5 linked regions of the Homo sapiens genome follow. The protein of the gene in region 5 purifies or fractionates together with the protein of the main gene of each other region. This does not show direct contact. Each region holds a gene or a part of one and is shown on either strand. Other genes may lie near its edges. The genes, in order: FOSL2, VPS50, PPM1E, CC2D1B and NEMF.

Region 1 (6,424 bases), on a different chromosome or scaffold from region 5:
TTCCAAAGTCACCGAGCTAGCAGGTGGGGTAGCCCAGATTTGATTCCCAATGTATCTGACTCCAGGGTCTATGTTCTATGGCCTTGGTGCCAGGACTGCCCCCTCGGTACCCCTGAGGGGTGAGTACTGCAGAGATCTGCATGGAGAAGGGGGTACGGAACACAGCTCTACCCACCTCTCTCCTTCTCTTACTCCCCAACCCCATGCCAGCCCACCTGTGGATGGATAAACGCTAAGCCCTAGGCTGCTAGAGAGTGGAGACTTTGTCATGCACACTCCTGTATCCCTAGCACCTAGAACAGTGCCTGGCTTCTCAGAAGTGCTCAGCAAATCCCTGTGGGATTATCACAGCCTCTCCTCCTCCCTTTTTTCACTCCAATTTCTTTCTTTTTTTTTTTTTTGAGACAGAGTCTCACTCTGTCTTACCCAGGCTGGAGTGCAGTGGCATGACCTTGGCTCACTGCAGCCTCTGCCTCCCGGGTTCAAGCTATTCTCCAGTCTCAGCCTCCCGAGTAGCTGAGACTACAGGCACCTGCCACCACACCCGGCTAATTTTGTATTTTTCATAGAGATGGGGTTTCACCACATCGACCAGGCTGGTCTTGAACTTCTGACCTCAGGTGATCCACCCGCCTCAGCCTCCCAAAGTGCTGGGATTACAGGCATGAGCCACGGCGCCTGGCCTTTTGCTCCAATTTCTTAAGCACATATTTCAGGACTCCCAGAACCCTCAGAGAACATTTGGTTCAGCCACCACGCTTGACACAGAAGTAACGTGACAGCCCGAGAGGGCCTGTGAGGATGCCAGGGTCACCCCGCAAGGACCTCAGCCCCCTTCTTTCATCCCCAGCCAGAGAAGCAGAAGCGAGCAAGTGCACGTGGAGGGGCCGCTGTGGGAGGGGAAGAGGTGTGTGTCACCAGCCTCCTCCCCACGTTTTCCCTAACATGGATTCCTGTTCATCAGTGAGGACATACGGGCAAGGGCTTCGTTCAGCAGAGGACAGCATATTCCGGAGTGAAAAACAGTTTCCGTCTGTCTCAAGGGTCTGACGAACGTCATGAGCTTCTGAGAGGCTTCCTGTGGAGGATGTGGCTCAGGGGCCTGGGTGGCTGGGTCAGAGGGCGGGGGAGGTGGGGGAGGCAGGGGAGTAGGGTGTGAGGCCTCTGGGAGGAGGGAAGGAAAGTAGAGGAGCCTCAGGGGGCAGGGCTATTCCGGGGCGGGTGGTGAGGAGCGCCACATGGGGCACAGCTCCTTGAAGTGCCAATCACAGAAAGGTTAGTGGTGGGAGGGCCCGCTGAGGAAGTGGATTGTGGATCTGCCTCACCTGGGAATGAAGAATTCCCACTCATCCTCCCCGGCTCTAACACCTCCGAGGGCCATTACTACAGGCATCACAGAATTCACGCAATTCAATTCATTCAACACCCCAGAGTGAGGGCTGCAGGACAGAGAAAGACAAGCCTAAGTGGGTGGATGGTACCTGGAAACATTAACTCAAGTGAGGGGATGGGCCAGGCGTGGTGGCTCACGCCTGTAATCCCAGCACTCTGAGAGGCCAAGGCAGGCAGATCACCCGAGGTCAGGAGTTCGAGACCAGCCTAGCCAACATGGTGAAACCCTGTCTCTATTAAAAATACAAAAATTAGCCGGGCATGGTGGCAGGCACCTGTAATCCCCGCTAGTTGGGAGGCTGAGGCAGGAGAATGGCTTGAACCCAAGAGGCAGAGGTTGCAGTGAGCTGAGATCGTCCCACTGCACTCCAGCCTGGGCGACAAGAGCGAAACTCCATCTCAAAAAAATTATAATAACAAAAAAAGTGTGAGGGGATGTTTTCCAAAGCCCCATCCTGGGCAGTCACTGTGAGGACCACTGACAGAGTCTCTCTCATCTCCTCACTCTGAAAGCATTCCACTGGGGAGAGTCAACCCTGGCTCGGGGCTTCCTCCACACAGCACACGGCCCTTCCTGCAGGGCCAGGCTCTGAAGGGAGTTACGTGACGTTGGTCAGGTCAAGCTTAACAGAGGGAAGGGCAGGGCTGCGGGTCCCCAGGTCTGGGCAATTAGGCGGCACGGGAGAGTGACTCACAAGAGCAGCACGCGGTACCATGGCCACAGCTCTGAGTTCATGATAGAGGTGGGGAACCCGCCTGCCCATAAAGGAAATGAGAAAACCCCAAGAAAATACAACCCTGCTGCCACGTGACCTATCTCCATCAAGACTTCTCCCTGGCCCAACCCAGAGTGCTTAGGCCAGGCTGGGCCACTCCTGATGGCGGCAGGCATGGGAGTGGCTGGAACCTCGGGAAGCAGCCCTGGATGGGGCAGGTCTGGACCTGCCCTGGCTCCCACCCTCCATCATCCCTCACCCAGGAGCCCCCACAGTTCTGTGAGCAGAGAACACTCAGGTGCTGCGTAAAAACCGTGGCTAGCACCCCCACAGAAGGTTGTTCATTTCTTCCCTCTGGGCCCTGGCTGGTGCTAAACGCCACCTCCCTCTCTCTCTCTCTTTTCAATCAACACAATGCTGACCCATGTGTCCAAAGGAAGGAAAGCTCTATCTCCACTGACTCATCTGTAGGGCATTTGTGGGTAAGGAGACAGCTGTGGGAGAGAGGATCAGGACCCCCGGGGCTCTCACTCCAGCCCACCCAGAGGTGCTCCCACCCTACGCAGAGTTCCTCACCGCCTGCAGCTTCTCTGTCAGCTCCCGGCGTCGGTTCCGGCACTTGGCTGCAGCCAGCTTGTTCCTCTCCCGCCGGATGCGACGCTTCTCCTCCTCTTCAGGAGACAGCTAGAGGCCAAAGCCAAGGATCATGGTTAGAACAGAGACAATGGTTCACAGTATTTTTTAAAAACTGTATTTTAAGTAAGGCAAGAAGCCCTTCTGGAAATGGAGAAAGGAGAAGGAAGGGCAAGAGGAGCATGGCTGGACTCAGAGGCCCCAGAACATGTGGATCCCTGATGTCTGGCTGCCTGGGAGGGCTCTTTTGAGCTGAATCTGCCCCGGAAGGTGATGTCCAAGTTTAAAGTCCATGTTTAAACAGGACAGCAATGGGTCAGAGATTCACTGGCCCAGGCATGATGGCAGCACCTATCACATCAGCCCTGATTCAGTGCTCAGGCCAGAGAGAAGGAGCTGGGGATGCTTCTCCAAGAGTCCCCTCCTGCCAGCCAGGCGTGGCCCCACCCACTTAAGCAGCTTCTTCCAAACCCTGGCTAATTTCTCCTCCCATCACTCTGCCTGCTCTGCAAGCCTCATTATCCCCATTTTGTTAAGTAGCTGGGCCTGGAGTCCCCACACAGGTTAAGAACCACCCAGGGGGGAATGTTATGTTGCTGATGGGAGGGCCAAGAGTGCCACTCCACTCCCGATTTCCTCTGCCAATCCCAGGGTGCCAGCTGCTCACGGTTCAACCCCAGGTACTCCCCCACATGCCTGGTACAGTGCTAAGTTGGACAGGACATGCAAAAGGAAGAGGAGCCCCCAGCAGGTAAAATCCTGCTGCCCACCATATCTGTCCACTCAACAAGTGAGCACCTGGTTCCATGTGCAAGATGAAGTTCTACGGGCTTGGGATTTATCTGCGAACCAAACAAAGGAAGATTCCCCTGCAAAGAGCTTAGGATCTAGCTTCTTCCAGTGAGACAGTTAGGAATCTGTCACTCATACCGGAAAGCATGAACTCTGCTCTACTGAGCAGGGCAAATGCTCTGGTTCTACAGAGCCCTGCAGAGCTGTGACCCCAATGCCTCTCTCAGGCAGAGGTGACACAAGGAGACGGCTGTGGGCCAAAGCAGAAAGCAACACAAAGGGAAAGCCCACCCATTCAGTTATCAGACGTTGACTGCACACCTACTAACTGCCCGGTGCTACACTAGGAGCTTAGAAGATCTCAAGGGGAATAAGACCTGGGTCAGCTCTCACGGGACACCTGGGGGCAAAATCAAAGCTACTTTTGGAGGAGCAGGGAGAAGCTACCCCAAGGAGGGATACTGCCTGGACTTCAGGTCACCCCATGAAGGAAAGAGCCACTGTCCTGGTTGGGTCCAAGTCAGAGTCCCACAATGCTCCCTTTAGCCCTGGAGGTCTGTTGCTGTGATGTTTTGAACAGCAAAGAGAGGACAATCATCACAGCACCAGAGAGGACAATCCCATGCCTGTCACACAGAGGGAAGTCCACAGCCCGGCTGAGGTCATGAGGCCATTTGGCCAAGGCCCTGAATACTTCCTGCTCCTAAACCTGTCTTGTCTTGAGCCCAGCAGAATTGCCAAGAAAGCCTTATGGCCCTGCTGCAGGCCTGGGTTTAGGGCTCACCACTGAAAGGGCCACCAGGGCTCCCCTTAAGGCCCAGGAAGCCCCCTAGATCCCTCGCTAATGAGAGGCAGAAAAGAAGGAGGCTGGCCTTGACCCAGTTCAAGCCCTCCTTCCCCCTTGGCTGCTTCTGGACAACTTTTGGCCTCCTGACTGACCTAGAAGTCTCTCCCCTGACTGGTGAGGTGTGGGGCAACTTGTGGGAGCTGTCAACATAGGAAGTGTTCAGGGGCGGTGAGATCAACATGGTTCCAGCTTGAGTGTGTCAGCAGCACCATGTACCCACCCACAAGCCACACACACCCTCCCCTCCCCACCTCCTCAGAGTCGCCGCCACAGGGCACAGAGGGAACCTCCCAAGAGGAGGCCTATGAGGCACCAGGCCGGCTCCGGAGGCAGGCTCCTCCCTAGCAGGGAGGCTGGGGGAGGCTGGGGACGGCCGGAGTAAGCTTCAGAGCAAAGCCCTGAGGGCTGGCAACCTGAACAGCCAAAGTTCTAGGCTGCCACTGCCCAGGCTTCCTTAAAGCTGCTGGGAGATGTGTGAATTCCCAACTGATGTGGGATACAATGCTCCTTGTTCTCTCCCTCCCTCTCAAAAAAGGAAGGAAACTCTCCAGACAGATTGTATGAGGCACGCCTAGGTGGTGTGGTGGGAAAACCACAGGGCCAAAGGTCAGGAGAAGTGGGTTCCAGTGCTGGCTCTGCTACTAATTCACTGTGAGACTCTAACAGGGCCCTTCACCTTTCTGGGTCTCCGTTTCCTTGTCTGTAAAATGGGTATAAAGGGAAAATGAGAAAAGATGGTCTCCAAAGTCCCTCTGGATACAAATTTCTAAATTTGGTGTGAGGTAGGCCCAGAAGAGAATGGAGAGCGTGGCCGGGCGCGGTGGCTCACGCCTGTAATCCCAACACTTTGAGAAGCTGAGGCGGGTGGATCACCTGAGGTCAGGAGTTCGAGACCAGCCTAGCCAACATGGCAAAATTCCATCTCTACTAAAAGTACAAAAAAAATTAGCCAGGCATGGTGGTGCATGCCTGTAATCCCAGCTACTCAGGAGGCTGAGGCAGGAGAATTGCTTGAACCGCGGAGGTGGAGGAGGTTGTAGTGAGCCGAGATCGTGCCACTGCATTCTAGCCTGAGTGATAGAGCAGGACTCCATCTCAAAAAGAAAAAAAAAAAAAAAAAAAAAAAGGGAATGGAGAGCATTCAGCACATCCTCAGGCTTTGTGGTCCTGCTAGCCCCAAAGAGTACCTGGCAAGCCTGGCTCTCACTCAGGATCACTTATATCCCAGAAGAGTCCAGCTCATCAGTGAGTATAAGGCTTTGCACCTTGGATTCCGTGAAGGAAGCCTATTTATAAAAGTCCTTACAAGCATGGCTACTGCAATATTTACAACTGCAATTATAGAAAGCAACTGTGAGGAGGATACTGGCCACTTGCTCCAGCAGCAGAGGCCCAACATGCAGCTGTGAATCCATTATAGTGTCTAGCAGACACACCTCCCCAAGTGGCTCTGCACCGTGGTTCTGCCATTAACAGAACAAACCAACAAGTAGTGGATACAAGACCCAGCTTTGTCCTCGCAGGAGCAGAGCTCCTGAGAAAGCTTCCAGTTTCTTGGTGTGGTGATCCCTGTAATTCCAAGTATCCTGGGGTCTGGATCTACCCTGATCCACTGGGAACCATGTTTGAAAGGTCCGTATATTGGAACATTGTGGCCCTGGGGATCACAGAGTGAAGATGGACAGTGGTTGAAATGAGGAAGGGTTCCAAGGCTGTCACTGAAATAGTTTCCCAGGATAACAATTCATTTGAAAAAGGGATTCCACTGCTAAAGTATTTTTCCCTTCCCTGGGCTCAGGGTGGCATAGCCCTGGAGAAAGAATACTGCATAGGGGGTCCAGGGAACTGGGATCTAGCCCAGACTTCCCCACTCACTGGCCGAGTGGCCACACACAGGTATGTCTGGCCCTTGCTTGTATCATCTGACATGGGGGAGAGGTGGGGCTCTCTGAGGCTTTATCCCATTCTTTCTGGAATTATGCATGATTCTGATTTCCCTTTCCAAGACCAGGGAACTTGGCACTGCCCTGGCTTACTGCTGATC
Region 2 (6,424 bases), on a different chromosome or scaffold from region 5:
GTCTTTAAGCACACTCTTTCCTCAAATACCAATCATTTTGTTTCTACCTTCAACATATGTCCAGCGTCTGACCACCCCTCACCATATCCCGCAATGCTACTGCAATCCTAGCCTCGCATGGTTTACCAAATTAGTTTCCTAGCTTGTTTCCTTGCTTTGCTTTTTGTCCCTCTCTAGCTCTTTCTCAAATACACAGAGTGGTTTTGGTAAACCCTAAGTCACAAATCAGGTCATCACTTGGTTCACAGCCCCTCAAATGCTTCCATCTGAAGGTGAAATCCAAAGTCCTTCCCCGTATGTGTCCCCTCCTGCCACATCCTCTCTGCTTTTACTTTCTTCTGCTTACTATGCCATCCACACTGCCCTCCTTGCTGTTCTCTGACAGCAGCCTCCACCCTGGGGCCTTTGCACTTGACATTCTCTCAGCCTGCTACACTCACTCAGACATCTGCATGGCAAGCCTCTTCCCTTCCTCTCAAGGGAGGCCTTCTGCCACCATCCTTGTTTAAGTTATACTACCATTGTGACCACCACCACTCCCTATTGATTTTTCTCCACAACATCTCTCCTTGGGAAGGATAAGTTTCATGGAAAGGATAGCATCTTGCTTGGGTGCTTAAAGGTGGGATTGTGATTAGGAAAGCAGGGATAACAGAAGTAAGGTAAGGCAGATAGCAGGTAGCCAGCAAAAATGGTCTCCCAGTGGTTACCTGATGGTGTCACTACACTTTAGCGTAGGCTCTAGTACTGAGTGGTGTCAAAATGGACACCCTGACTACAAAGTCCTTTCTTTTTGGGCAAAGATTAGCATGCTTGCTATTTGGTGTAGCTGGATTAAAATGCCCACATTGTGGAAATGCCTTTTCTTTAAAGCAGAAATCCTTTTGGTACCTAGGACTGGGAAGGAACAGAGTAAAACAAAAACTACTGATGAAGAAAATCCCTTTCCTGGATGGAAAGGCTTAGCTCAGTGTGAAAAAATACCTACAGGGCAAATTTGGAAATCCTCACCAGGGCCAGGTCTTCTCAGTCTTGGGATCAAAAAGTGATGTCTAAATTAACTTATAAAAATGGTTATCAAAAACACCAAAAAGAGTTCTATATTAATCATATCAATAAAGTACTAAAATTCCAGAGGGATCCTTCTAAGTGAACGAGAATATTTAGCTGTGGTTTTGTTTTCATATTGAAAAAATGATCTAAGTATACTTAGCAATATTCAAAAAGGATATGTCAATCAAGAAAAGCACATCAAAGCAAATGAATTATTTTTCTCCATTCATTTTGAAACAGCTAACAGTTCTCTTGTATAAATCTAACAGTTTTGTCCTTGTGAGAGCTGTGCTGCTTAAACTTTTTCATAGCCTTTACAAAGCTGTGGATGATAGGAATTGAGCAAATATTTTCCACAATAAGAAAAAATCTGTAGAAAGCTGCACCAGTCTTAACATTTACAAAGATTATACCAGACTATTAATAATTCTCATCATTAATCATTGTCAGAAGCTAAATATCATTTTGTTAACCACTAATCCGAATCAAAATTATTCCAAAAAGAAATATATATATAATATATATATATGTATATATATGGAAATCCCCCCCACCCTGTACTTCTATGTGCTTTGAGCACAACTTGTATTCATCAATTCATCTTCAGATCTAGTTTTTTATTACAAAAGACAACTATGCTTACAAGGTGAATTGAATTACAAGCCTTTTACTACTTTTTGGTGAGTTAAGAAAAAGCTATTTAATCTAACAAAGTTTCACTTTAGCACTCAGCTAAATAGAAATTTCGAAATTTTATTTAAAGATATGATAAAATACCATATGGCCCTGGTTTCAAGAGAAATTCATTTAATAAGTTGTGTAAATGAGTTTATTAGTTAAAGTGAACTTACAAAATCTCTGTTGGTTTTATAAACCAAAGCAAACTAGTTCATTTGAATTGCTATGTGCCCCCCTAGCATTTTTAAATGCAAGACAATGTATTTGTAGAAATGATCATTCTTTCTCAGGGAATGCTAATTTACCATGCTCCCATGGTAAATTCTACAGGAAACTTTCATGGAAAATGTCAAAGTTAAGGAAAGTTTAGACTCAAAAATAATAAATTTTTGGTAATGATAGTTTTTGGAACACGTATAATTCCATTTACATTCTCAGCTTTTCAATTGTATTTATCTGAAAATTAGTTTCATAAAATGTTACATGGTTATAACTCAATATTACTGTATAAAGTATTTGAGAAATGTCTGGTAACTCTCTTGTGATTAGGTAACTTCATGACTCAAACCTCCTGTTACTGTTTTGATGCTAGCTAGCACTTATTAAGCTACCTTTTAATGAAAAAAAAAAAAAAAAAAAACCTTTTTCAAAAAGCATTAAAAAGATCCACCATTTCATTTTGAAGATGGAGAAAGCAAAGTAAGGGTAGGTTAAAAGGTCTGTCAGATTGCATGGTCGAGTCTCTAACAAGATAAGTAATTCTTTTGTATCAATTCCTATTACCTTGGAAAACACTGGGCTCTACCAGGCAGGTGATTCCTGTTCATATTATCTAGGGCCAACTAAAGTAGAAATTAAAGGAAACCAACTATAAAATCCATGTAGAAGAGAAAAATAAGCAGCTCTTCATCAACTGCAAATTTTAAAAGATTGATTAGCTCTTTATGTGCCCAGCTAAATATGCCATTTAAACTCAAGGACCAAGCTTATCTCATGTTTGTTTTCTTCAAGTGGCTGCATATAAATAATGGCTACAGGCAGAATCTACTTCACAAGTATATAATCTAGCCACAACCAAATCATAATGGCACCAAACTCATACCTTTTTACAAGAGGAAAGTTTTAAATTGACAGTAAATGAACTCCGACATGAGAGGATGAAAAGAAAACACTCAGCATACAGACACACACAAACATATTCTGAAAGTGCTTCACATTACACTGTGCATTTACAGACATCGCAGGGACTGATGGACACAGAGTAGCAATTGTTTCCTTATCACCTCCATGCTTGATCACATGCCATTCTGTGCCATCCATTTTATCACCTTAGGTCCCAGAAGACTCATAAGACCCAAGGCCTGTTTCTCACATGATTCCTTAGGATTCTGTGAGCTGTTGATGTTACAGGTCATGCATGGCAATCATTGGACCAATGCCACACAAGCTTAGATGTCCTCCACTCTCCAGTCAGAAAGAACACACACAAAATTCCTTATCAGACAGTTGGCAAGAGTACATGGAAAATGGATTTTTATGTCACATACATTAGGAGAAGATCCCTGGCTTCAGGGCAAAGTTTAGAGGAACAGCACATACTTACTGAAGACTAAGTGGATTCCAGAGTTCATCATTGGCTAGACTGATACTATTTTACATTTGTGTTATAAAAGGTGGATATTTAAGAAGAGTGAACATATGACCGTACATTTATGAGTGACTAGCAGACAACTGTTTCCTGAGTCAGTCAACCTGGGTTTTACTGTCCTAAGACAAAATCTGAATTTAAAGAGACCAAAACTTTCAACAAAAAAACCACATATTTTTATAAAGAAAGATAAAAGAAAGTCTCATAATCATGATTCTGTATGCTACTCAGGCATTGAAAAGGTACCCTCAATGAAATTACTTTTCACCATTGGTTTCAGGATATAAAACAATTAAAATTAGAACACACTAAAAGCTGCACTATAGTTCATGACATCTGCATGCCACACAAAAAATCAAAATGTAGTCTCACATAGGCTGATCATACTAGAGTATATTTATTAAATTTCACCATTATGATCACTTTGTTATAACTAAATTAACCCTGACATAAACTTTGACATTTTAAAAACAGAGAACATACTGATTTTTCAACTATTTTACTTACATGTGTTTTTTAATTCTCATGCAGTGCTCATAATTAGGAGATACTACATATTCACCCTCACATTATGCTTATTAAGAACCAAGCTCAGAGGGTAGAAAAGTGCCAACTTCATTTTCCATAAACTTCCCATACATATATTAAGCCACTGTTCTTCTAATTATATACTTATGGTACATTCTTCTGTAAAATGTATAACTGTAGTCACATAACCATTGTTATGACAAGGCGGCAACATCATTTCAGATTACAACAAATGAGACCAAAAGTTGAAGAGACCACAGCATATAAAAGTCATGAGAACACCACACACATTTCAATATTTTCCACTTTCCAGTCAAAAAAACATGCACAAAGTTTTCTTAGCAGATAGTTGTCAGAAGTGCATAAAAAAACTGGCTTTCAGGTCATATATGTTGAGTGAGGATCAATGCCATTGAGGAAAGAGAGCTGTGTTCATTATCTTTTAGGTCTGTCTATATCATCTATAGCTGCTAGAAGTTTTTGTCTTGCTTTCTTATTGATATGGGATCCCAGGCAAACATTCACCAGATTGGTCAGCTGCTTCGTTGAATATTCCTGCTCAAAGAAGAAAGATCCAAATTTAGTACCCTAAAAGGAATGTATCTGATCAGTGCAACAAAAGAACAGGCGGATATTCAGGTGCAGTGGATAGTTACTGAGCATTATAAACCAGTGAAAAACAGTGGAAATTACAGTTGGGACATGGAAGGCAAATTGTTTACTGAGCTGTAATAGGAGAGAATAAGAATACTATAGTACACATTTGAAACAGTAAGCACTAGAATCTGTTTTAATATGGCAAAGCAATCTGACATGCGTATGCTTCTTACTGCTTTGATGATCACACACTTTACACTTGTTTCTGTAATAGTCTTTGTTATTGAGTCATCAAAATACACTGACATTTCAAATTTTTTAAATGCTACTGATGAAGTATTTTTCTGGCCCTCTACATTTTGTAAACACTTTAGTTAAAAAAAAAATCTCCAACAACAGAAGAACAACTCTTCTAAGATACAACAAATGAATAAGGTAACAAGGATCACAAAGTCAGGGAGCTGCAAATAAAATTAAGACTACGAGTATCTTTCGCAATCCAAATCCATCTGGTTCCTGAATTTTAGATACTGAATTGCTAGGATGAGAATAAACAGGGATTCATCAGAAATTTCTGCAGATTGACTTGGTACTGGAGGTTGAATAGCAAGAGTTCAGATAGGGAAAGACAGCTGTGTACTATTATCTAATAAGAAAAGAAAATGTGTCTTTATTGAAGGTAACCACTAAATATAGTACAATTTCAAAATAGGAGAAAGAATTGATTTTAAAAACTTGGCAAACTGCTCAGCTTGTGTATCTGATCTCTGAGAGCACCTGTCCCCGCCTGGTAAGTAATCTCATTTAACCACTCAGCATTCAGTGAGGATCCATCGTCAGTGATCGCTGGACTCATCATTGTGGGAAGTTTCCTTCAAAGACAGAAAAGAGTCCCTGCTGCTGCTGGGGAAATGTCACTGAATTACAAATATCAATCAGTTAAAGCTCTTTCAAAGTACTAAGTTAAAAAAAAATCAGTCTACTATATTAAAAGAGGAAATTCAAAAAACGGGCATCATTCTTGCATCGAATAGAGCTGTGCCTTTCCTCCTTGGCTACTTTGTATTCTTTCCCAAAACCCTTTCCTCAGTACCAACCCAGAAGTGTTTACAGCTTACTTTACTAAATGGATTCTAGCAACATTAAGCAGTCTATCTGCATCTAGGTTTAACATTTTGGTTATCAAATGTCAGTGGGGCTAAACGTGGTGAAGTTTTTCTCAATCTGGCTTTACTGGTCGAACTCATTAAAAATAACACATACATTCCTACTTTGCTTCTAAAGATCCGAAACTGAGTAAGAGTGGGGACATTCACACAAGATTCACGCCAATGTGAATGTTCTAGGCTAATGCATTTTATCTCTTTACAGTGTTAAGGCCAGAAAGGATGAGTCTGAGCAGGTATATACAAATAATTATTTTCTTACCCAAATGAAATAAAACTTGACTTAGCTTTTACCCATGACATTCATAGGTTAAGAAAATGTAAATCCTAGAGTTATCAAAGCAATGAGGATTTGGTGATAATTTTAACACATGCCATATACAGAAAAGCTTCCCATACCAAGCTCACTGAGTTGAACTGTGTCAAAAATTCGGCATCCTACGTAACAATAGTATTTTTCGTTATCTATATAGTCATACAAAAGAAAAATAATCAAATCTATATTAAAGGTAAAATCTAATGTAAGATGTAAGTTAAGTTTAGCCATTTAAATATTAATGTCTTCACTCATCACTAATACGTGTCAGTGTGTAGGATGTTACCATTTCATCGTTGAGGAGTACGAGAAGGTTTGTATGAGAAGGTTTAAGTTACATAATCGATTATGGCTTATGAATCATTTCATTGTTTCTGTATTCAATCTGTCTCAGTATTTATCAACTTCAGCCTTTTCCTATAACACAGTTGCAGGAAA
Region 3 (6,424 bases), on a different chromosome or scaffold from region 5:
GCTAAGGTGCCTCCATAGCCTGTTAGAGCTCATTAAAACTCAATCTATTTAAGCAGAAAATGCAAAAATTTAAAAGATATTTAAAAATAAATAATAAATAAAATCCAATATGGGATTCAGTGTCCTTCACCAATTTACTAAAGTTCCCATCCCCTATTCTACCTGACTATATGATTATCATCATTATTATTTTTTGAATTCCGCCTCTAAAAATAAATGTGATCTGAGTCACACTGTTCCCAAAAATCTTGTTTTAGTGCTTCAATTAAAAGACTGCTGCAACTGTTAGTTTGGAACAGAACATACAAAGATTTGTACAGAGAAAATGCTGCCAAAGTTCTGGCTTTTCACCTGCTCTACTGTTGGGTGTCAAATTCATGACATTTCGCCCCCAAATTTGGTAGGAGGGCATGAATATCCATTTCATCGTAGAAATGGCAACATCCTTTTGTCTTCAACCTCTTCTCTCCATATGTTAGGAAACATATCATGCCTCTGTCAACTTTGGATCATAAATCTGAAGGGCTCATGGGGAGAAACTGTTGAAAACCTTTTCATTTTTATAAGTATCATTTCTTTCCTGAGTAGAGCTGAACTCTGCCCAGGAGTCCTTTTTCTTGTCCTTTTGCAGCCCCCCATTTTATTCCATGTGGTTTCCAATTCTTTCTCAAATTCTTCAACTCCCTCATCCACTTAAGCTACTGGATTTTGGTAAATGGCCTAATTTCCTACTTCAAAGACAAGTTGATCAGGCTTGAATTTTCTCAATTCCCCTCCCACCCTTGCCACACATGCACTGTTTAATCTGTAGAGATTCTCCCATATCAGCTACCATTTTCTCAGGGTAAGCAGTGTCCTTTTCCCATCCTAACAGTGAGCCTGTGCTGCTCTGGCTTCTCTACTCTCTCGTCTTCAATTTCTCCTCTACTTGCTCTCTTCCTTGTCCTACAAACATGCTCAAATCTAAAATCTCCTCGTCCTAAAAATAGAAACAATAAAAAGGAACCCTTTCCTGAATCAGCTTTTGCCTTAAGCCACCACACTATTTCCTTTCTCCCCTTCACCATCAAACTGCCCAAGAAACTAAATCTACACTTGCTCCTTTATGTTACTGCCTATTTCCAGTGCCAGATTGTTTGTTGATTAGTAGGTTTTCCCACCAACCAATCCATCTCATCAGTTGATACCCTCCTCCATATTCCTTTTTAGCTCTCCTCATCTCTGTAACAAACTGTATGAATGTCTCCCAGCCAGGCTCTTTCTACTCTAGCCCAGCTTCCATACAAATATCTTTATAAATACAAAGCTGACCCTGTGGCCCCTCTGCGTATTCACCTGGTAAAGTCCAGACTACTTAGCCTCGCACATAAGGCCCTTTGCAATCTGGCACCAACACTGCTAATCTACCACTCCCATCTCTGCTCTAACCTCCTGGACTTGTTGCTTTTCCTAAAACATGCCATGCCTTTTCAAACCCCTGTGTATTTATATTTCCCTCTACCTGTGTAGGGATTTCCTTCCCAGCACATTATCCTCCACATTCAACTCAAAAGTCACTCTATGTATGAAGTCTCCCTTATCCACTCTTAGATTGTTTATTTTTTATTATTAAAATAGAGATGAGGTATCACTATGTTGCCCAGGTTGGTCTCAAAATCCTGGGCTCAGGCATTCCTCCCTCCTTGGCCTTCCACAGTGCTGGCTGCCATACCCAGCCTTTTCTCTGAGATTGTCACTTATTAAGGGACATTCTTCCCTGCTTTGGTTTTCCCTTTTAGAAGAAGAAGCTGGTATTCTCTATTAAGTTAGTTCTGTAACAAGTATTAAAGATGATCCTCAATCCTCTGACAAAGGTCAGATCAGGAGAAATAGGTGTTTGGTTTGAGTTGTAAACCTAATTCACTGGCCACTCAAGCACTCATATAATGATCATTAACGTAAATTGGTTCCACAGATAGTATAGTCCTCTGGTTCGGTGATTTTCAGTCAAGGGTAGCATTTGATGGGTAGTGGGTCCTGCTAAACCTACAATGTGCATGATAAAGACTTTTCCCCACCAATAATAATAATAATAATTCCATATAAGGGTATATTTTAGAAATGAGACATTTCCCCTTTTTGGCCTTATTCTAGAGTTCCTAATAATTCCCTCCAGTCTAAGGTCAAGCCAAATCTCAATTTTTCAGGAGGTATTTGTAGACTCTTTTAGCTATTTCTCTTTCAGCTTTCTACTCATATTTGGGCCACTTCACAGCTTGCTAGCACCTTCCCAAAGAGTGGGAGGAACTCAAATCAGTGGTGAAAGCTAAATCCTTTCAGATTTTCTTCATGTTCTGGAATTTTTGGTAATTTTTAACTAAATTTTGAGACTAGATGTGAATTCCAACCATGTCTAATTACTTCATTTCTTTAGGGAAGCAGAGATTAAAAACTGCAGTATACATGTAATGTACATATCACCCATATAGATATACATATTGATTTATTCTTTTTTAAAAAAACAGGAAGTGAAGCTAAGCCATGAAGCCTAAAATAATAAACCCAGGGCCCAAAGTGAGACAAAGACAGAAATAGCTTAATTCTTTGAACTTATACCCTTGTATTTTGTCCAGCCAACTTAGCTGTTTAATCTCTACGTTTTAGACCGAGTTTCATTGACTTTCCCTTCTTTTGAAAAATTTAAGTCCCAGGGATATAGGGTTCTTTGAAACTCCAGGGTTATCTGACAGGTGACTGTATTCCACATACAGAAAGTAGTTTTCATATAAAAAGCACAATGCTTTTCCTATCAACTTATTCTGTTATTTATGTCATTTTAAAATTCATGGAAATAATTTAGAGGCATAAACAAAATGAATGTGGATAAAATACGGAGAAAGGCTTCCATTCTCTGAAAAATACTGATTTGACCCAAAATGCAATGAAATGAGAAACACTATGATTTTTTGTTTTTGTTTTAAGACAGGATCTCACTCCCTTGGCCCAGGCTGGAGTGCAGTGGCACAATCTTGGCTCACTGCAGCCTCAAACTCCTGGACTCAAGCAATCCTTCCGCCTCAGCCTCCTGTGTACTAGGACTACAGGCACAAGCCACTACGCCCAGCAATTTTTTTTTTTTTTTTTTTTTTTTTTTTTGAGATGGAGTCTCGCTCTGTCGCCCAGCCTGGAGCGCAGTGGCGCGATCTCGACTCACTGCAACCTCCGCCTCCCAGATTCAAGTGATTCTCCTGCCTCAACCTCCCAAGTAGCTGGGACTACAGACGTGTGCCACAACACCCAGCTAATTTTTTATATTTTTAGTAGAGACGGGGATTCATCGTGTTAGCCAGGATGGTCTCCATCTCCTGACCTCATGATCTGCCCACCTCAGCCTCCCAAAGTGCTGGGAATACAGGCGTGACCCACTGCGCCCGGCCTTTGTTTTTTTTGTTTTTTGTTTTTTTAAGAGATGAAGTCTTACTATGTTGCCCAGGCTGGTCTTTAACTCCTGGGCTCAAACCCTCTTCAGCCTCCCAAAGTGCTGGGATTACAGGCGTGAGCCACTGTGCCTGTCCCAACCACTGTGGTTTGAAGCAGATTTGGGTACTGATTAAAGGCTTCCATAAAATTTTAAATGTATAGAAACTAGAAAATTCTGCATTTCTTGATATGGTTCTCTTTTTTTTTTTTTTTGAGACAGTCTCACACTGTCACCCAGGCTGGCGTGCAATGGCGCGATCTCCACTAGCTGCAACCTCTGCTTCCCAGGTTCAAGCAATATTCCTGCCTCAGCCTCCCAAGTAGCTGGGATTACAGGCGCCCGCCACCACGCCTGGCTAATTTTTTGTATTTTTAATAGAGATGGGGTTTCACTATGTTGGCCAGGCTGGTCTTGAACTCCTGACCTCGTGATACACCCGCCTCGGCCTCCCAAAGTGTTGGGATTACAGGCATGAGCCACTGAGCCTGGCAGTTCTCTTTCAATAATGGAATTTAAGTATATAAATGTACAGGTTTAACTAAATCAAACAATTAAAAGAGACGTTATCCAATTATTATTTTAAAGAATAATAAGCATTCTGGTAACATAAATTATCATCTCAGGTTCCCTGTATCAGAGTTGATACAGGAGAATGAGCTAGAAGAGGACAGTTTGGAGAAACAAAAATTTGTTTTTCCTACCAATAGCTCTGGAAACCGACAGACTTCCATTCACCCTCCAGGCACCAAACCAGACTACGCAACCTCCAAGGGCCTCAATTCTCTGCTTTTCATCCTAAACAGCAATGCAATAAAAAGAAGCAAATAACTGGATTCAGGATTTATTCATTTACTTTAACAGTAAACAACAGATATAATACTCATCAGCTCATGAAAAGGTTCTCTTTGTTTCTCCATTGGAGGGTGGGCACAGTTGCTGATGTGATAGCAATAATTGTAATAATTAAGTGAATCCTGGCCGGGCGCGGTGGCTCACGCCTATAATCCCAGTACTTTGGGAGGCCGAAGCAGGCAGATCACCTGAAGTCAGGAGTTCAAGACCAGCCTGGCCAACATGGTGAAACCCCGTCTCTACTAAAAATACAAAAATTAGCTGGGCGTGGTGGCACATGCCTGTAATCCCAGCTACTCGGGAGGCTGAGGCAGGAGAATCGCTTGAACCCAGGAGGCGGAGGTTGCAGTGAGCCAAGATCACACCATTGCACTCCAGCCTGGGCAACAGAGTGAAACTCCATCTCAAAAAAAAAAAAAGTAAGTGAATCCTAATCAATAACTAGAAAATCTAAACTAATAACTAGAGCATGGGCTCTATTAAAACAGACCATACTTACCTCTCTGTCTGGTTTGTGTGGCTTCATTAGTTCAACAGCTTGGCCCTTTCTCACAAGCATAACCTGGGAATCACCCACCCAGGCCACATGTAGCATGTTGCCTCTGATGAAAGTCACCACTCCTGTGGTCCCACATCTTAAGCTCTGAAAACAGTTTAAATAAAACTAGACTCAGTGAAAAGAAATAGATACTACATTCTTATTGAGAAGCAATTTATAATTAAGCTTTTCAGCTGGGAGCTATACTATTAATAATGGAATTTCACACATATATAATAATTCATTGTCTCAATGCATTTGTATATGCATGTATGTATTTATGTGTATATACACACATAAGTCCACCTGATCTGTGATATGCAGGGCGAGGATGATTATTAATTCCACTTTAAATATAGATAAGAAAACTATGGCAGGTTATGTGACTTGCCCAAGGGCAGGTAACTATTAGTATATAAGACAGAATTGAAATTCTTTTTCCTCCCAGTCAAGCACTAAATCCTCTATACCAATCCTCAGAGTAAAAATTTCTATATTCTGCTCTCCATTTCATTACTGACATCGTATTTGTTCAGTGGGAGAGTCCTAGCTGTATAAAATGATATATAAAACATCTGATTGGTACACAACAGATGCTCTAATCTCTGGAAATTAAGCTAAGGGGCCAAGAGACAGCTTACGTTCCCTGGAGTACTAAGATGCTTATACCTTTAAAAAAATATCCTTCCTACAGTATTTTTAGGGGTCTTTGCTTTTGGAACATTGCATAAAGAACTAACAGCCTGGAATTTCACTGCAGTAGCTACGACTGTACTTAAAGCTCTTGGTCCTACTATACGAAAATGACATCCCCATTTGACATGAGTCACCACCAAATGAGCATGACTTTCTGTTACTAAGGACCTGGCCTAAATTAGAACCAATGCGTCAGGGGTGGTAAAAGGTCTCTTGTATCCAATGAGAAAAACAACTTCTCGTTTTCCCTATATAGGGAAAGTTTGTTATAAATCCTCACCCACCAATAAAATGTCTTCCCACACAGAATGTTCAAAAACTCAGCCCCCTAGAACACATGATAAACACACTTCAGTGCATATGCCCTGGAGAGAACAGGAGGCAGGGCTGCTTCATAACAGGAATAGCTGTTTTCTTCCCAGCAGTTAGCAGCACATGGAAGCATAAGAAGGAGAAAAGGGGCGCTGAGACAAACCTAAATTATTCAGAACTATTGGCAGAACTGAGAGACACCAGGGTCACTGACAAAACAAATGAGGTAAACATGGTCAGAAAACAACAACAACAACAACAACACATAATTTTGAGAAGACAGAGGAAAAAAAGAATAGAATAGAGGATGAAGAAGACAGAGTGAATCTCTTTGTTTCACATTGATGATTACGGGTCACCTCTCAGGGGCCGGCCCTTGTCCTCGACTCAGATGATAAAAGCCCACAGCTTCAAGAGAGGCAGAGCCAAGCAGAATGCAGGTCCTCAAGAGACTGGAGCTCTGAGGTCAAGAGTGGCTTTATTCTCCAGACCCACCTCTTTGTGTGGACTCTACTGGTTACTGTTGGATTTGCATATTAATCCAAACTTAGGGGAGGGGAGAGATG
Region 4 (3,986 bases), on a different chromosome or scaffold from region 5:
CAAGACACACAGACGTTGTACTCTGTACAATTCTTGCATGCTTCCCATATCAAATTTTCCTTTTAAGCCGTTCTCTTTCCCCCCAAAATCGAAGTGGTTACTTTAGATGGGAATCTGGCCACTTCCCCATTACTCCGCTCTCGGTTTTTTTGTTTGTTTTAGTTTGAGACAGGGTCTCACCTTGTCACCCGGGTTGGAGTGCAGTTGACAGCTCATTGCAGCTTGGACCTCCGGGGCCACAGCGATTCTCCTGCCTCGGCCTCTCAGTAGGTAGGACTACAGGCACGCACCACCACACCCGGCTAATATTTGTAATTTTTTGTAGAGACAGGGTTTCGCCATGTTGCCCAGGCTGGTCTCGGACTCCTGAGCTCAATCTCTTGTTAACTGGACTCTGCAAGCCGCAGGGAGAAACGTGCTTTCCTTAGAAAACTAGACTAGAGCATATTTACTGATGCTAAAGAGGTTGGTTTTGTATTTCCCTGGGCAAATAATTCTCTCTGAGCCTCCGTTTCTTCTAGAGATGATGTCCATCTTGCAGGATTGAGAACTGGTATAAGCTCCATTATGAAAAGTGACTGACACAAGCTTGGCAGAAAACGGGTATACTCCGTTTCTCTCCTTAATATCCTCCATGCCATTTGATTGCACAGCAGGGTAGGCGAGTGAGAACTTAGTGTTAGACTCTGTAAAGTATTTAAGATGTGCAGCGAGCTCTGCCTGTCTGAAGTTTTCAACGGACCGGAAAAGGATACTTTCAGGTGCTGAATTATTAAGAAACATATGGTGGGCCCCATTTCCATTTCCCCAGGCTTAAAGGACATGGACAAGCAGGTGAGCCCCGCCCCTGTCTCTCTTCCAGGGCGGAGCTTGGGTAGGCCCCGCCCTCTTGCTCGGTGGGGCGGGGCGAGGGCTGGAGGCGGGGTAGGTCCAGCGAGCGAGCGAGCGCCCAGCGCCTCGGGCTGAGTGAGGGAGGAGGTTCGGTGGAGAGGCTGCAAGTGGGCGAGGGCTGGGCGCAGCGACCTCATTGGAGCCGGCCGGTGGACGCCCCGGCGGAACCGCCCAGAGTTCCTGTCCTGCGCTACCTACCCGAACGCGCCTGCGCGCTGCGAACCCCGCCCCGGTGTCACCTGTTGGAGCCCCCCGCCCGCGTAGCCGTGCACATGCGCACTGCCGGCCGCCGGCCAGTGGGGTCACGTGTTGCGCGCGAGCCACCTCCCCTGCTGGCGCTTCCTGTCGCTACCGCTGCGGCCCAGGGCCCGCGGGAGCCCAGGGCGGTGCCGGGTGAGACAAGGCCGGGGTTTGGCTCGGATTCACCGCGAGGTATGCCGCGTCCCCGCCCCTCGGCGTGGGGAGTTCTGGGGACCGCGGGGGTAGATGGAGGCGGCGCGGGCGGGGCAGGGCGGCGCGTCCCGCAGCGCGGGAGTGGGGGTCCCGTGTCGCCTCCCCCTACGGACTCCGTTGCCCACCTTCCGTGAGGCCTGGCTGTGTCATCGGGGCCGCAGCCTTGGAGTGTCTGGCCTCGCTTTCACCTGAGCCGGAGTCACTCCCGAAATCTGACACTCAGAGTCCCCCGGAGCGCCCGCCAGCTCCTCCGCCCGCTCCCCGCCGCCTCCACGCCCGTCAGCTGGTCTCCCCGCCAGCGCTGTGGCGAGATGCGCCGGCTTCCTGCCTTTTCCCCCTACCTTCTGTGCACCTCCCCTTTGGTGCCAGAATGGGGTTTCTGAAACACCGATACGATCCCGCCACTTCTTTCCCAGCGCCCTCAGAATAATGCCCAAACGCTTTTCGGCTTAGAGGTTTTCATATTCTGCCGCTTGCTCACATTTCCACCTCGGCTTGTGCATTCAGGCCTCACCGCTTATGCCCCAGTCATACCAGGCCTCAGGTTCCATTGTACAGGCCAAGCTGCTCCCCACTTCAGAGCCGTCAAGTGTTCCCTCGTCTTGGAATCCTATTTCCCTCTTTCCCCCAACTTCTTTGCGTGACTCAGCTCAGGCGTCACCGCCTCGAAGGAGGAGCCTTTTCTCCCAGGGCTGAAGAAGGGGTCACCTCAGGGCACCCATGGCCCCTGGGGCAACCCCGTGTAGTCCACCTCCACCCTGTAAATGGTCATTGAAGGCTGAGACCGTCTTAGGTTCATTTCTGCGCTCCCAGTGCCCAGCGCAAGGTCTGACACAGGAGGTCCTGTGAATAACTGTGAGATCTTTATGGGAATCAGAATGCTGAGCCAGCTTTCTCCAGAGCTCAGCTGTGAGATGGAACTTTGATGACATGTCCTTGGATGATGAAAATGTTCTGTGTGTGTGCTGTCTGGTCATAGCCCCTCACCACATATGGCTGTTAAGCACTTGGAATGTGTCTGTTGTGGCTGATGGACTGGATTTTTAGCTTTATTTCATTTTAATTCATTGAAATTTAAAATTAAATAGCCAGCTGTGGCTTCCATAAGCACAGCTTTAGAGCCTTTCTGAATTCTACCCAGCCTTCCACCCACCCTGAACCTAGAGTACTTCCCTGAATGTGCTTTTTAAATTTGAGTCCGTTCAGAACATTCCTCAGTAAACCCATTAACAGGTGATCCCCATCCCTCCCATGGCCTGTGCTGCTTCAGTGCTTTAATTAAAGGTAACCCATACTTTGGTGTTCAGCATTGCCTTCTTTGGGAGTTTACTATCCACACCTTACCACGGGTAGCACTGTTGGGGGCGTGGCTTATGGGCTACTCCAGCCTGAATCTCTGTAACTCTTCCATAGGTATCTAGGCTGCCATGATGCCAGGGCCAAGACCTCGGAAGGGCCCTCAGGCCAGAGGCCAAGGGGTGGCCGCTGCCAAGCAGGTATGGAACTTAGCCTTCTAGGCTACTGGGTCGGTTTGGGGATGGGGGTCCCTAGACAACTTAGGCAAACTGGATCACATGTAGTTCCCCCATTAGTTCAGAGACTTGGAGCAGTGCCTCCTGGAGGTGGCAGAGCCCTTAGACACCCTCCTACTAGTCTCTTCCACATACAAGTGGGGAGAGGGTTCAGGAATCACCAAAGTTTAGGATGTTCTGATGGGACCTCAGTGCTCTCAAAGGTTCCTTAGATAGGGTCACAACTTTGCTTGTTAGCCAGGGATGCCAGGGCATGAGGGCTGTAGTCAGTGGGAGGACTTCACTGCCTAGGGACAGATGGCTGTGCCCCAAGTGGAAGAACAGGGGGGTCTCCTCTCCAATTTTCTTCCTTTATTTCTTCTGGGCCTACATCTTGAGACTTCTTAGTCCATTTTTACTGTCTTTAAAAAGGCAGGTAAGAAAGGAGGTGGGGTAAAGGGCATAGACTCAAGTCGCAAAGAGCTTGTTTTAAATTCTGATTGTCTCACAAGACTGTCTCAGTTTCATCTGAACATTGGGATAAAAACAGAATGTAAGCTGGGTGCCGTGGATCACGCCTGTAATCCCAGCACTTTGGGAGGCCGAGGTGGGTGGATCACCTGAGGTCAGGAGTTTGAGACCAGCCTGGCCAACATAGTGAAACCCCATCTCTACTAAAAATACAAAAATTAGCTGGGCGTGGTGGCATGTGCCTGTATTCCCAGCTTCTTGGGAGGCTGAGGCAGGAGAATCGCTTAGACCCGGGAGGCAGAGGTTGCAGTGAGCCAAGATAGTGCCACTGCACTCTAGCCTGGGCGACAGAGCCAGACTCTGTCTCAGAAAAAAAAAAAAAAAAGGATGTACCTCTACCTAGAGTAGTCATATTCATGGAAACAGAAGAATGGTGCTTACCAGAGGCTGGAAGGAGGGGAGGAAGGGGGGTTAATGTTTAATGGGTAGAAAGTTTGTTTCACAACATGAAAACAGTTCTGTGGATGGATGATGGCGATGGTAGCAGGATATTGTGAATGTCCTTATGCCATTGAACTCACCCTTAACAGTGGTTAAGATGGTAAATTTCATGTTGTATGTGTTTTACCAGAGTTTAAAAAAATAGGACCTTCTTTTTTT
Region 5 (6,424 bases):
TGTCACCCCTGACTCATCCTTACTCACTAGGCACATTTTGCCCCTGATCACCTTGATGGCCAGGCACTGGGATTTGTAGTCTTTGTACCAACATAGCATTGGCAGGTCTTAGGCATTCAATAAAACATCTGTTGACCGGTTGGTTGACTAAATGGATTAAAAATACACAGGTTAAGAAGGAAGGGTAAATTTTATTACTGTGGTATTCTTCTTTCTGTTCCCAATGCCAACGTCTTAGTTCAGGTCCTCATTACATCCCACCCAGACTTCCTCCAGAGTCTACATACTCTGAATTTTTTTTTTTTAAAACGGAGTTTGTGCCACCACACCCAGTTAACTTTGTATTTTTAGTAGATATGGGGTTTCACCATGTTGGTCAGGCTGGTCTCAAACTTCTGACCTCAGGTGATCTATTCGCCTTGGCCTCCCAAAGTGCTGGGATTATAGGCGTGAGCCACCACATCCGGCCATTAACTTCTATATTAATCTTCCTTAATCATTTGCCTATGTCACATTCTCTTCGTATCACTTTAAAGGGTATAGTCCAAAATCCTTAGCTTTTAAGTACTCCACTTTTAGTCCAAATTTACTTCTCCAATCATATTATCTACCATTTAATACACAAACTTTCTCTTCCTTCCAACTCAGTCTATTTATCATTTCCCCAAAGCACTATGCATATTACCCCAAAGAAGCACTCCCCTTTGTTAATGCTAATTCTCCTTGGAGTCTCCCTCCTTCATTTACTTAACTGCTAACATATCTTTCAAGGTATACTTCTGATGTTATTTCCCCAAACATCTGAACTCACAGCAATCTCTTACTCTTGAACTACTTTATCACTTTCAGACACTATTTACATATTTATGACTACTTCCTGAATCCAGGACTCAAAAGCTTCTTGAAGGCATGAGCTTTATACTTCACCTCTTTGTATACTCAGTAAGTATCTAGCACAGGGCTATGTGCTCAGAATTCTCTGTAATTGTTCAATGATTATGTTTCTCAAATGAAAAGGCTTTATTGTCCATTCTGTTCTAGGGCCTCTTCCTGGAGTGCTTTAGTTTGCTTAGTCTTTCCCACCCTACAGTAGTTGTTCCCTTCCCTTCCGCCCTTCCCTTGCTTCTACTTGCTTCCTGAGACCTGCTATTAAAAAAAAAAAAAAAATCGGCCAGGCGCGGTGGCTCACACCTGTAATCCAGCACTTTGGGAGGCCAAGGCGGGTGGATCGCGAGGTCAGAAGATCGAGACAATCCTGCCTAACACGGTGAAACCCCATCTCTACTAAAAATACAAAAACAAAATTAGCCGGGCGTGGTGGTGGGTGCCTGTAGTCCCAGCTACTCGGGAGGCTAAGGCAGGAGAATAGCATGAATCTGGGAGGCAGAGCTTGCAGTGAGCCGAGATCGCAGCCACTGCGCTCCAGCCTGGGCCACAGAGCGAGACTCCGTCTCAAAAAAAACAAAAAACAAAAAATCAACTATTCTGCCTTACATAAAACTTTCCTAATTTCAGGTATTCATATTTATTCCTGACAATATCACCCTAGAACTAGTCTATGTAATACACTGAAATCATTATTGTACATGTTTATGTAATAAAAGGTCTTATTAGAGCTAGTCCTCAAATAACATCATTTCATTCAACATCATTGTGTTATAACTTTGATGAGAACAAAATTGATTCCTGGCCACGGCTACCATCTGTGCAGAGTTTACATGTTCTCCCCATGTCTTTGTGGGTTTTCACCAGGTACTCAGGTTTTCTCTCACATCCCAAAATGCGCATGTCAGGTTAACTGGTGTGTGTAAATTATCCCAGCATGAATGAGTGCAGGTATGTGTGCCCTGCAACAGAATGACATCCTGTTCTAGGTTGGTTCTGGCCTTTTGCCCTGACCTGCCAGGATAGGCTCTAGCCACCAATGACCCTTAACTGGAATAAGCGGTTGAAAAACGAATGAATGAATGAATGAATGACTTAATAAAAATGATTGTCAAAAATTCATAAACTATAGTCATACAAATGTATAACAATCAACAATGTAGTATGAAAGTGTTTAATGAATGTGCCACATTTTTGTTTTTGAACCTCATGGTAGTAGGAGGTACTCTATAGTTTTCACTTTGCAAATAATCCTTGATTTAACCCACTACCACTACAACTGCCATCACTCATTGATTTACCAAAAATTGGGTAAATAATTATCTTGCTCGCTTTCATTCATCTTTCTTAAATATACATACAGTTTACATTTATTTTAACGTTTAATATTAGAAGAGTTTTCAGTCTTTATTTAGAAGCTTGGTGATGGTTTTGTGACCAAAAATATGCCAGAGGAACTTAACTCTTGTTTATATCAATTAGCCCATGGCAAAACTGGTTTCATTACACACTGTTTCCCTTAAGTCCAAGTTTCCAAGAACCTATTGAAAATGTTAAGTGGGCCAGGCGCGGTGGCTTATGCCTATAATCCCAGCACTTTCGGAGGCCAAAGCGGGTGATCACGAGGTCAGAAGATCGAGACTATCCTGGCTAACACGGTGAAACCCCGTCTCTACTAAAAATACAAAAAATTAGCCGGGCATGGTGGTGGGCGCCTCTAGTCCCAGCTACTCGGGAGGCTGAGGCAGGAGAACGGCGTGAACCCGGGAGGTGGGGCTTGCAGTGAGCCGAGATCATGCCACTGCACTCCAGCCTGGGCGACAGAGCGAGACTCCATCTCAAAAAAAAAGAAAATGTTAAGTGAAGGCCGGGCACAATGGCTCATGTCTGTAATCCCAGCACTTTGGGCAGCCAAGGTGGGAGGATCACTTGAGCCCAGGGGTTTAAGACCAGCCTGGGCAACATGATGAAACCCTGTCTCTACAAAAACTATAAAAATTTTTGTAGTGGCACACGCCTGTAGTCCCAGCTACTCAGGAGGCTGAAGCAGGAGACTGCCTGAGCCTGGGAGTTTGAGGCTGCAGTGAGCCATGACTGCGCCATAGCACTCTAGCCTGGGCAACAAAGCGAGACCCTGTTTCAAAAAAAAAAAAAAAAAAAAAAAAAAGGAAAATGTTAAGTGAGGACTTACTCTACTAGGTCTATTTCATTGATTATAGTTATAGATTAGGGCCCTTAAACAGAAAAATGTATTAGAGCTTAATATTAAAAACTAAACATTTGTGCTAAATCTTGGTAAATTTAATGAAGGAAGTCTTTAAACAGCTAAGTAATCTGTGGTAGCTGAGCTATCAATTAAAAAAAAAAGAAAAACATGCTTTTTAGTTAATTAACACAGATGTGTTTACCTTCTTTCCTTGGCTGACAAATGTCTCCGGCTCTGTGATTTACTGTCACTCTATTAAAACAAAAAAACAGGCAAATGCAAATATCACTATTAACTTTTTTGAAAAGTAGAAAATTATTCACTGAGAATCGGATGTTCTTCATAAAACTGAAAATAGCTTACAGAATTAGAAGATTCCTCTTTTGAAGCCAATTTCTGGATGGACCTATGAAAATAAACACAAGGGAGTCTCTACTAGCCTGTAAAAGACATGCATTTACAAAGTCCCAAAACATTCCCATATCATACTCTTAAGTACTGGCAATCCAACAAATTTTCAAATTTGGTGAAGTGAGAAAAACATACAACCAAATTGCTCCTCTCTCCACACTTCCATATACATTTTTAAATAGGTGACGTGTATTGAAAACTTACTGTGTGTCAGGCACTGCCAGATGGTATACACGCATGAAACCTTCACCAAATCCCTATGAAAGGGATACCATTCTGTTTTCACCAAGAAGGAAACTGAAGCTTAAGCACAAAGTAATTTTCCCAAGGACGCACCCTAAGACCCAATACTGGTCTGTCTGACTCCTAGACTGTTCTGAATTACCCCTAAGTTAATTATGCATTTATAACTATGGACTATTCACCTGATGATCTGCAAAACATTATATAGACTAAAACACATTTCTTTGATGGAATTGCCTTTGTTATGTTTTTAGCATTTATAACCATTTACTTGTTTCTATTTGGATCTAGTTTGGCCACTCTATATGCACTGTATTTTTCTACCCTGGTCCTGGGAATTTCTTTGCAGAGAGACCCAATCAAATGTTGAAAAAGTATTAAGACAATGGAGTGTAAAAGTACTGATGTCAATCTTGGTATTATCTTTGTAAGGATTACCTCATCATCATTCTCAGCTTACACAATAATATGTAAAATTTTATTTTTTAATTACCTTTGGGGTTGAAGGTGAGACAAGTCAATGGTAGTATCAGGATAATTTAATGTCTCTTCCCCTTCATCCTTCATTTCACCAACAGAATCCTGATCTTTTCTAACCTCTTCATATTCTCCTTCGTCTTCAGAGCTTTCTTCCTGAATGAGCTCCTCATTTAGTTCATCTCTGCCACTCTGAAGAGTGATATCCTCTTGGTCAACCTGAGTCATGAGTTCTACTTCCACAGGAGTTTCATGTTCTTCTTTATCCTCATCACTGCTCGTGTCACCTCCATCTGTAGAATTATCATAAGGAAAGTCAGTGTGGGACTACCAACCAAGCCAGGTGATTTCCTAAAAATGTCATAAAAATATTCCACTGTTTCTCCCATATTTCTCCAAAAAATCAACAGAAAAGTGTCTGATCATTCCCAAAGGGTACTCTTAGACAAAAGAATAACCTGTATCATGAATAGGTTGAACTAAATGATCTCCAAGATCCTTTACCACAATAAATTTCTTGGACATTGCTACCCTTTCAACAATGAAAACCACAACTCTGCCTTAGTTGGGTATTTCCAAAAACCAAGACAGCAAAATTAGTTGCATAACTTTTGCTGCTTTTATTATAATTTGCACATAAAAACTTAAATACGTATTATATAACGCCCACATAGCAGGTGCTCATTCTTCTGCAAAAGGAACACTGTCTAATAGTAGTAACAGGGTCTACTGCCTCACCTGTAAAATGAGATGCCACCACTCATCTGACAAGGATGGTTGTGAGAATAGAAAATAATGTAAATAGGCCAGGTGCAGTGGCTCATGCCTGTAATCCTAGCACTCTGGGAGGCCGAGGTGGGTGGATCACAAGGTCAGGAGTACAAGACCAGCCTGGCCAAGATGGTGAAACCCCGTCTCTACTAAAAATACAAAAATTAGCCAGGCGTGGTGGCAGGCGCCTGTAATCCTAGCTACTCGGGAGGCTGAGGCAGAAGAATTGCTAGAACCTGGGCGGCAGAGGTTGCAGTGAGCCGAGATTGTGCCACTGCACTCCAGCCTGGCGACAGACTGAGACTCCCTCTCGGGGGGAAAAAAAAAAAGAAAAGAATGTAAATAAGGCACTTTATACAGTCCCAGGGAAATGGTGAGCCTCAATCAACAAAATCTTGCAGCACAACAGTAATAGTAAATGAAACAATGCAATATTACCTGTAAAGAGGAATGACCTTAGCAGAGAGAATAACTACAAAAGTAGTTTAGTGGGAATATTTTCCCTAGTTTCCTCAGGTAGGCAGATGAATTTATTCCAGCAACTATAATTGCTCTCTACTTGAAACAAATATTTTATTAAATCAAGCCAAATTTTCATATGAGAAACTGCACTTTATAAATTCATCTATCACTTGTAATTCCTAAACCCAAAACTAAATGCTAATGCACATTTACCCGAGTCTACCTTTGTTAAACACATTTATGCATTACCCATTAAATACTGAAGTCTCACTATATAAACATACATTAAAGTATGTTAGTATGGATCCAATTAAATACTTTTTTTTTTTTTTTGAGACAGGGTCTCATTCTGTGGCCCAGGCTGGAGTGCAGTGGCAGTGGCGTGATCTAGGCTCACTGTAACCTCTGCCTCCCAGGTTCAAGCAATCCTCCTACCTCAGCCTCTTCAGTAGCTGGGACTATAGGCGCTCACAACGCCTGGGTGATTTTTTTGGTAGAGATGGTTTTGCCATGTTGCCCAGGCTGGTCTCAAACTCCTGAGCTCTAGCAATCCACCTGCCTCGGACTCCCAAAAGTGCTGGGATTACAGACATGAGCCACAATGCCCGGACTGATAAATACTTTTAAATTCACTAGAATAAGTATATTTAGCATTTCCAAAAAAAAAAAAATTCAGTAAAACAGCACGTACTTTGGGTTTTCGGGGTTTTTTTGAAATTTAGATTATCCCAAAGAGACATGATCTTCTAAGGATTTAGAAGCAAAACTAGGTAACAAAAAACATCACAAGCTAATTTCTTAAAATCTATAAACTACCTAATTGTTCCATTTCTTCTGATATGAGTTCACTTGTACAACTTGCCAGTGTCTCCATGTCTTCATCCTGTACTCTGACTTTTCGTTCACCCTGATGTCTCCAAACACAAGACTCATCTACCTAAAGAAACAGTTATTTTTCAGTGACGGAGC

The links.
Region 1: the proteins of NEMF (region 5) and FOSL2 purify together in Homo sapiens (co-immunoprecipitation; one large-scale study listed by IntAct). This does not show direct contact.
Region 2: the proteins of NEMF (region 5) and VPS50 fractionate together in Homo sapiens (co-fractionation; one large-scale study listed by BioGRID). This does not show direct contact.
Region 3: the proteins of NEMF (region 5) and PPM1E fractionate together in Homo sapiens (co-fractionation; one large-scale study listed by BioGRID). This does not show direct contact.
Region 4: the proteins of NEMF (region 5) and CC2D1B fractionate together in Homo sapiens (co-fractionation; one large-scale study listed by BioGRID). This does not show direct contact.

The regions. Positions count from the first base shown.
Region 1 is NC_000002.12:28,405,127-28,411,550, reverse strand, and holds part of FOSL2 (fos-related antigen 2), read right to left. Parts: intron 2,793-6,424; coding exon 2,685-2,792; intron 1,079-2,684; coding exon of another isoform or gene 976-1,078; intron 1-975.
Region 2 is NC_000007.14:93,356,355-93,362,778, reverse strand, and holds the end of VPS50 (syndetin), read right to left. Parts: intron 4,463-6,424; coding exon 4,343-4,462; 3' UTR 1,656-4,342; downstream 1-1,655.
Region 3 is NC_000017.11:58,970,663-58,977,086, reverse strand, and holds part of PPM1E (protein phosphatase 1E), read right to left. Parts: intron 4,956-6,424; coding exon 4,812-4,955; intron 4,256-4,811; coding exon 4,162-4,255; intron 1-4,161. UniProt on the Homo sapiens protein: Protein phosphatase that inactivates multifunctional CaM kinases such as CAMK4 and CAMK2. Dephosphorylates and inactivates PAK. May play a role in the inhibition of actin fiber stress breakdown and in morphological changes driven by TNK2/CDC42.
Region 4 is NC_000001.11:52,363,406-52,367,391, reverse strand, and holds the start of CC2D1B (coiled-coil and C2 domain-containing protein 1B), read left to right. Parts: upstream 1-1,186; 5' UTR 1,187-1,323; intron 1,324-2,757; 5' UTR 2,758-2,771; coding exon 2,772-2,840; intron 2,841-3,986. UniProt on the Homo sapiens protein: Transcription factor that binds specifically to the DRE (dual repressor element) and represses HTR1A gene transcription in neuronal cells.
Region 5 is NC_000014.9:49,796,182-49,802,605, forward strand, and holds part of NEMF (ribosome quality control complex subunit NEMF), read right to left. Parts: intron 6,393-6,424; coding exon 6,272-6,392; intron 4,516-6,271; coding exon 4,239-4,515; intron 3,498-4,238; coding exon 3,455-3,497; intron 3,344-3,454; coding exon 3,294-3,343; intron 148-3,293; exon of another isoform or gene 52-147; intron 1-51. UniProt on the Homo sapiens protein: Key component of the ribosome quality control complex (RQC), a ribosome-associated complex that mediates the extraction of incompletely synthesized nascent chains from stalled ribosomes as well as their ubiquitin-mediated proteasomal degradation.